Homo sapiens: one gene and its partner. The protein of the gene in region 1 purifies or fractionates together with the protein of each later gene. This does not show direct contact. Each region holds a gene or a part of one and is shown in the gene's direction. Other genes may lie near its edges.

The links.
Region 2: the proteins of PLEKHF1 (region 1) and VAMP7 fractionate together in Homo sapiens (co-fractionation; one large-scale study listed by BioGRID). This does not show direct contact.

What each region holds. Positions count from the first base shown.
Region 1 is NC_000019.10:29,668,267-29,672,088, forward strand, and holds part of PLEKHF1 (pleckstrin homology domain-containing family F member 1), read left to right. Parts: intron 1-3,822. UniProt on the Homo sapiens protein: May induce apoptosis through the lysosomal-mitochondrial pathway. Translocates to the lysosome initiating the permeabilization of lysosomal membrane (LMP) and resulting in the release of CTSD and CTSL to the cytoplasm.
Region 2 is NC_000023.11:155,894,673-155,898,494, forward strand, and holds part of VAMP7 (vesicle-associated membrane protein 7), read left to right. Parts: intron 1-950; coding exon 951-1,008; intron 1,009-3,439; coding exon 3,440-3,577; intron 3,578-3,822. UniProt on the Homo sapiens protein: Involved in the targeting and/or fusion of transport vesicles to their target membrane during transport of proteins from the early endosome to the lysosome. Required for heterotypic fusion of late endosomes with lysosomes and homotypic lysosomal fusion.

The sequences.
Region 1 (3,822 bases):
ATACAGGCACTCAGGGCCCAGAGGCTGCCAGGAAGCTCTGTCACCAACATCTTCCCGAGGCAGGCCGGCCCCAAATGAGTAAGGACAGGGCTCAGCTTTTTTCTCCCCTGTGCTAAGCAAGGGAGGTTCACTTCCCTAGTGAGAACAATTAAAAAAAAAAAAAGGATTCCCAGCTGGGCTCAGTGGCTCATACCTGCTATCCCAGCACTTTGGGAGGCTGAGGAGGGAGGATTGCTTGAGGCCAGGAGTTCAAGACCTATCTAAGCAACAGAGTGAACCCTCGCCTCTAAAACAAATTTAAAAATTAGCCAGGCATGTTGGTGCATGCCTGTGGTCCCAGCTACTCAGGAGGCTGAGGCGGGAGGCTTTCTTGAGCCCTGGAGTTCGAGGCTGCAGTTAGCCCTGATTGTGCCACTGTACTTCAGCCTGGGCAACAAAGCAAGACAATGTCTCAGAAAAAAAAAAAAAAGAAAGAAAGAAAAAAGCATTCCCCATCTAACTCAGGGCTGCTGTATTTGCCAAGAAAAACCTACAGGCAAGGTCAAACCAGGATGTGAAGTTGTGGTCATGTAGAGAAGGTGAGCATGCCGGGGCAGCTCCCAGGAGGATGTTGTCTGCCCCGCCCCTCGCCCAACCTGGGACCCTCTGCAGGTTCACAAAGGAGGGCACATGTGAGCCCCTGGCTTCCCCAGTCAGTGTGTGGGGTCAGCTCTCAGCCCAGCCCCTTTCATCGCCACCAGATGCCCCTCCTCGCCCTTCCTGGTCCACATTTTACCATCAGCAGCTGGACACTAGCCCTAAGAGCCTAGAGGGGGTCTGTGAGTCATGGGTGGGGGCAGAGCAGCAAAGGGGTCCCATGTGGAGTGTTCTGCACCCCCTCCAAGGGCTGCAGAGACAGCGTCATGGACTCTGCCCTCTGCTGGACGGGTCCAGGGTGGATTGGGCACCCCTGCCTGCAGCTCTCTTCTGCCTGGTGCTGCTCCTTCCCTTCCTCCATGCCATCCACTTGGCTGGCCCAGTCTCCAGAGCTCAACAAGCCCCCAGGGTTGCGGGAGGGCTACCTGCTCTCTGGGCACAAAGCCCACCTGCCTCAGCTACTGAATGTGGAGGCTTTGGTCTGCAGTCTCAGGTTTGGGTTTTCATCCCGTTTCACCAGTGGCCTGACTTCTCAGCACACAGCTGGGCTGGGGGCACACGTGGCCTTGCTTCTTCGGGGCTCCTGACATCCCCTGCAGGTGCCCAGGCCTGGATGCCATGTGGTCACCCTATCAGGCCCAGCCAGGCGTCCCATCATGAGACATGCTCAGCGGCCCCCAGCCCATGGAGCCCAGGACCCAATCCAGACACTGGCCTGTAATTCTTTTCCTTTTGAAGACCTTAAATTAGAAGAAGCAACACGTGTTCCCATTTCTTGAAATTGGCAGATATTCGGATTTCATCGTGTTTGCTGCTGCCTTTTTTTAAAAAAACTTTTTTAAAAATGAAACCTTATAGACGAAAGTGGAATCCAATCTGAGCCCTCCATTCCTGGTCACATCTATGTCCTCTCCCCAGGCTACTTACTCCTGACTTTCTCCTTCCTATCTTTTATTTTTACCATTCTAACCACTTTCAAGTGTACAGTTCAGTAGTGTTAAGTATATTCCCATTGTTGTGCAACAGATCTCCAAAACTTTTTTTTTCTGAGACGGAACTCACTGTGATGCCCAGGCTGGAGTGCAGTGGTGTGATCTTGGCTCACTGCAATCTCTACTTCCTAGGTTCAAGTGATTCTCCTGCCTCAGCCTCCTCAGTAGCAGGGATTGTAGGTACATACCACCATCCCTGGCTAATTTTTGTATTTTTAGTAGAGACAGGGTTTCACCATATTGGCCAGGCTGGTCTCGAACTCCTGACCTCAAGTGATCTGCCCGCCTTGGCCTCCCAAAATGCTGGGATTACAGGCATGAGCCACCACACCTGGCCTCTAAAACTTTTTAATCGTTTAAAACTGAAACTCCATACCCAGACAACCTCCGCATTCCCCTTCTGGCAGCCCCTGGCAACCACCATTCTATTTTCTGTCTCTATGAATTTGATCAGTATGTATATCTCATATAAGTTATTACAGTATTTGTCCTTTTGTGATGGGCCTGCTTTACTTAGCATGATGTCCTCAGGGCTCATTCGTGTTGTAGTGTGCGTCAGAATTACCTTCCTTTTCGAGGCTGAATAGTATTCCATGGTATGTATGTTCCACATTTTGTTCATCCATTCTCCCATTGACAGACGTTTGAGTTGCTTCCACCTCTTGGCTATTGTGAATGATGCTGATATGAACATGGGAAAGCAGATATTTATTTTAGTCCCTGCTTTCAGTCTGGATATATATCCAGAAGTGGCATTGCTGGATCATATGGTAGTTCTGTTTTTAACCTTTTTTTTTTTTTGAGACGGAGTCTCACTCTGTCGCCCAGGCTGGAGCACAGTGGCGCGATCTCGGCTCACTGCAAGCTCCGCCTGCTGGGTTCACGCCATTCTCCTGCCTCAGCCTCCCGAGTAGCTGGGACTACAGGCGCTCGCCACCACACCAGGCTAATTTTTTGTATTTTAAGAGACAGAGTTTCACCGTGTTGGCCAGGATGGTCTAGATCTCCTGACCTCATGATCCCCCCTCCTCGGCCTCCCAAAGTGCTGGGATTACAGGCGTGAGTATTTTTAACTTTTTAAGGAACTTCCATGCTGTTTTCCTTAGGGGCTGCACCAGTTCCTATTCTCATCAGCAGTGCACAGTTTCCAGTTTCTCCACACCCTCACCAACACTTGTTATTTATTTTTTGTTTTGTTTTTTTCCCCTCCTTTTTTTTTTTTTGAGATGGAATCTCACTCTGTCACACAGGCTGGAGTGCAATGGCGCCATCTTGGCTCACTGCAACCTCTGCTTCCTGGGTTCAAGCGATTCTCCTGCCTCCGCCTCCCGAGTAGCTGGAATTACAGGTGTGAGGCACTGTGTCCGGCCTTCCTCCTACCTATTTTTATTCATAGATATAGTTCTTGAACACTTTCAGAATGTTATGTAATTCCTGCATAAGTGGTGTCACTTTACATACAACATTCTACAGGCTGTGTTTTTCCACTCCACGTTTGTTGTTTGCCGTCAGACCACATTGATCTGTATCTCTCATTGCGTGAGTAGCCCCGGGTTTTTATCCTTTTCCCTGCTGGTAGGCATTTTGGTTGTCTCTGCTGGGCAGTCATTGCTCTTTGTGGAATGCAGTTCTGGTTTTGTCAGATTGTCCCTCAGCCAGGTACTCGGTGATCAGTCATGGTGGGACAGGTCAGTTCTGTCACTGGTAATCCCCTAGGTTTGCAGTATACAGCCAAGATCAGCAAGCTAAAAATAGCAGTTCTTACGTAAGGTAGTGTGGGCAGCCCTTCTCAGGACACTTGTGATCTGCAGGGGCAAGTGGAACGGGACTCGAGGGCCCAGCATCTTCTGTTCTGCAATGCATCCACCCTCACACTGGGGCCCCACTCTGGCTTTCTACTGGTGGCCAGGCTCAGAACTGCAGCTCAGTGACCCAGAAACACTATGGGTGTGATCAGCTCAGCCCCAGGCGTGCCGTGTGTACCGGAATGCATGTGTGCACGTGGTGGTGGTGGGGCCAGCTCTCACCTCTTCCTCTGTAGAGGTAAGAGCTGAGTCATGCATGGTGGGCCTTGGGACCTGCTTGGAACCGTGCCAAGCTACTTATGAAGCATCTAGTATGTGCTTGGCATGGCTCCAAGAATTGTGGACACAATGAACAAGAAGAAGCTCCTGTTCTCATGGAGCTAAGAACT
Region 2 (3,822 bases), on another chromosome or scaffold:
TGGCGCAATCTCAGCTTACTACAGCCTCAACCTCCTGGGTTCCAGCGATCCTCCTGCCTCAGCCTCCCAAGTAGCTGGGACTATAGGCGTGTGCCACCACACCTGGCTAATTTTTGTATTTTGTGTACAGACGGGGTTTTGCCATGTTGCCCAGGCTGGTCTTGAACTCCTGAGCTCAAGCGATCTGCCCGCCTCAGCCTCCCAAAGTGCTAGGATTACAGGCATGAGCCAGCCACCACGCCTGGCCTTTCGCTCACTCTTTACCTTGCCATCTGTTACTTATTCTTCAGGTCTTAAATCAGACATCACTTGTTCTGGGAAGTCTTTCTGGTTACCCTTTGGCAAATCTCCATTTCGTGCCTCATCTATTAATGTGTCCCCAGAGCACCATGTACTGCCTTTAACTTTCCTGTCATCCTGTTTGCCATGCTGCACTGTAATTCCTTACACTGTGATCCCTATGAAGACTGGGACTTGGTGGTTTTGCTTTTTTGTATCCTCAGCATCCAGCACAGTAACTAACTCAAAGTGGATACTCAAATGTTGAGAATTTGGTAGAAAAGATGTTTGCTTTAAGAACTTAGGAAAAAGCAAAGAAAACCATATGGCCTATTGGGGGTTAATCTTAATTACATCCTCCTCCTAAGATGTCATCTCTTGTTCATGCTTTAAGAGTCCAATTATGCTTTTGCAGCTATCGTTCTAATGGGTAATACACATGCTGTTGTGCTATGTAGCTAGAATAGAGATCTTTTTATTTCTTATGTACTTCTATCAGTTTGACTTGAAAGAAACAGGTATATTGGGAAGGGGAAGAGGGAGAAGAGACTGTATCCGTAAGTAATATGGTGACATTGGCAGTACTGAACGTGCTTATACATAGATAGAAGATAGAAGTAAAAGTGATGTTGCTTATAACCACAGTAAGTTTTATATCTTTTATTCTACAGTTATTTGTTTCATTACATCTGCCAAGACAGGATTGTATATCTTTGTATCACTGATGATGTAAGTAACTTGAAGACATATTGCTATTTAACTATGTGTACTGTTAATACAGCCAGTTCTTAATTATCTATACCAGGGGTCCCCAACCCCCAGGCTGCAGACCGGTACAGGTCTGTGGCTTGTTAGGAACCAGGCCACATAGCAGGAGGTGAGTGGCCTATGAGCATTACCACCTGAGTTCTGCCTCCTGTCAGATCAGCAGCAGCATTAGATTCTCATATGAGTGTGAACCCTGTTGTGAACTCTGCATCCGAGGGATCTAAATTGCATGCTCCTTAGGAGAATCTAATGCCTGATGATCTGAGGTGGAACAGTTTAATCCCGAAACCATTCACCCTCCCCCAGTCCTTGGAAAAATTGTCTTCTACAAAACCGGTCCCTGGTGCCAAAAAGGTTGGGGACTGCTGATCTGTACCTATAGTGGGCAAACGTGATGCGAACTTTACATAGCTGGAATTGTTAATATTTTGCATTTGTCATATAGAGCAGCAAATGTTAAGAAAACTTGATACTGGGGTATGTGCAAATCAACTCAATTTTGGTAGAGTTTTAGCTTAGCCTCTTGCAACTTCTATATTTATTCTATTTTGTAGTGAGAATTGATGTTCATAATTATAATTCTTTGATATCAAAACCTCTCAAAAATTGTTTACGTGGAATGTTAAATTAGATAGCATCATTTCTTCTATCAGTAGTTAATGAATCCTTTAATGTATGTGAACTTTGGAAAAACAAAATTACAATACATTATGATCAGCTATATAAACCTGTAGTTTACATTGGTTAGGTATGACTGTTTGTCGGCTCTCAGCCCAAAATTCTCAGTAACTTAATGATGTCATTAAGGTCCTTTCTCTTCTCTGCTTATCTCCGTGTCTCCTTCTTCCCAGACAGGTTGCCATTATGGTTTCGTAGAGCTACATACTTATTTATTCATGTCCGGAGTAGAGGGACTGTGTCTTCTTGAGTGTCTTATTGTAGGAATGAGGAAGCTTTTCCCAGCTGCATGCCCTCCCCTCCCCCTGCTTTCAAAGTGAACTTCCTTTCATGTCTTATTGGCTGCATGCTCATTTCTAAACTGCCTACTGGCAAAGAGACTTGGAATTGGCATGGTTGCCATAGATCAGGGTTCCTAATCTTTATTGTATCACAGACTCGTCACTTGTGGGACACTCCCAGAATGTTTTTGTTTTCTTTTTTTAATTTTCCTTTTCCAGAATGCTTTTAAATGTATAAAACACACACAATTCTAACAAAGCCAATTATATTGAAATATATATATATATAGTATTCAAAATATTTTAAAAACTTGATGTAGTAATATATATGCTTCTTTATGAACTCATTAACAAGATCTAGTCATAGGTCTAATAACTAATAGTCTTGATGTGATGGGTGTTGACAGTATTTTGAGATATCTGTAACTGTGATGGTATACAAAAAAAGATTTCTGTTGGTGACAGTTACAGGTACTGTTTAATACTACCCCGATTATGAATATACAACCTATATTCACAATTGAAATATAAGTTAACGATTGATAAAAATAATGATGTGATTTTCTTTTTTTCTATCCAAGTTCAAAGGCCCCTTGAATTTGGACCATTGACCCCAATTTAAGAACCCTTGGCTTAGACTAAGCATCTTGGGTGAAAGGGAAATGACTGTCAACCATAGTGATCATCACAATGATTTTTATCTCTGGCTTCACAATATTTTCCAAAAGTACGAAAAAATCTAGCTATATGTGAAATGACTGATGTGAAACAGCTTGGAATAGAAGGAAAATACTAATGAAATCTGGGATAGTTAGAGTCGAGCCTCATATTTCTTGAGCTATAATTTGATACACACATATACATGTATACATAAACACACATACACACATTCATTTTTTTCCTCTAAGGTATTCTTACAGAGAACACACATACTTTTTGGCTGGCTGGGATTAGACATGAGTATGTCACTTGATCTTTTCAAATATACCACCACTATTGAAAAAATTCGATTTGAAGTTAATATCAGTAGTAGTATCTGTATGTGTGAAAGACTCTATGATTATTATGGGATTTATTAAACATATTCTTGTGCTGGGCCTTCTAATAGATCTTATGAAATATATGGAGGAAGTAAAATTCAATTCCTGATGTCAAGAAGTTGATAACCTAGGTATCATTATCTTCAGTTGTCAATGACCAGATATATCTGGATTCATTCTCAGCTCTTTCATTTACTAGTTGTTGGACCTTTGGACAAGTTAGTTACTTTTTCAGAGCCTTCCTTTACTTATCTTTAAGATAGGATCAATGCTAGTTCCTCCTCAGATAATCATTGCTCAGTAAATGTTAGCTGTTTTTTATTGTTGTTCTTAATCACTCACATCATCTTTGTTTACTTTCTAAATGTGAGTTCTGTGTTGATCTCTTTTCAGGATTTTGAACGTTCCCGAGCCTTTAATTTTCTGAATGAGATAAAGAAGAGGTTCCAGACTACTTACGGTTCAAGAGCACAGACAGCACTTCCATATGCCATGAATAGCGAGTTCTCAAGTGTCTTAGCTGCACAGCTGGTAAGATCTTTCTCAGGATAAGGTATTTTGATTTATATCTTCTTCATTACCTTCAAACACTATGAATCTAGGGGGCCCTGACCTGCAATATAGTTTTCTGATTGTGTTACTGTAAGCCAACATAATAAAACTTCCCTGATTAAAAAAAAAATGTAAAGGGGCCATTTTAGGGTAGAAAACAGTGATAGTCTTTATTATCTCTATTAATAGTGGTCACAGTGTCTCATGATTGGAAGAGCATTAAA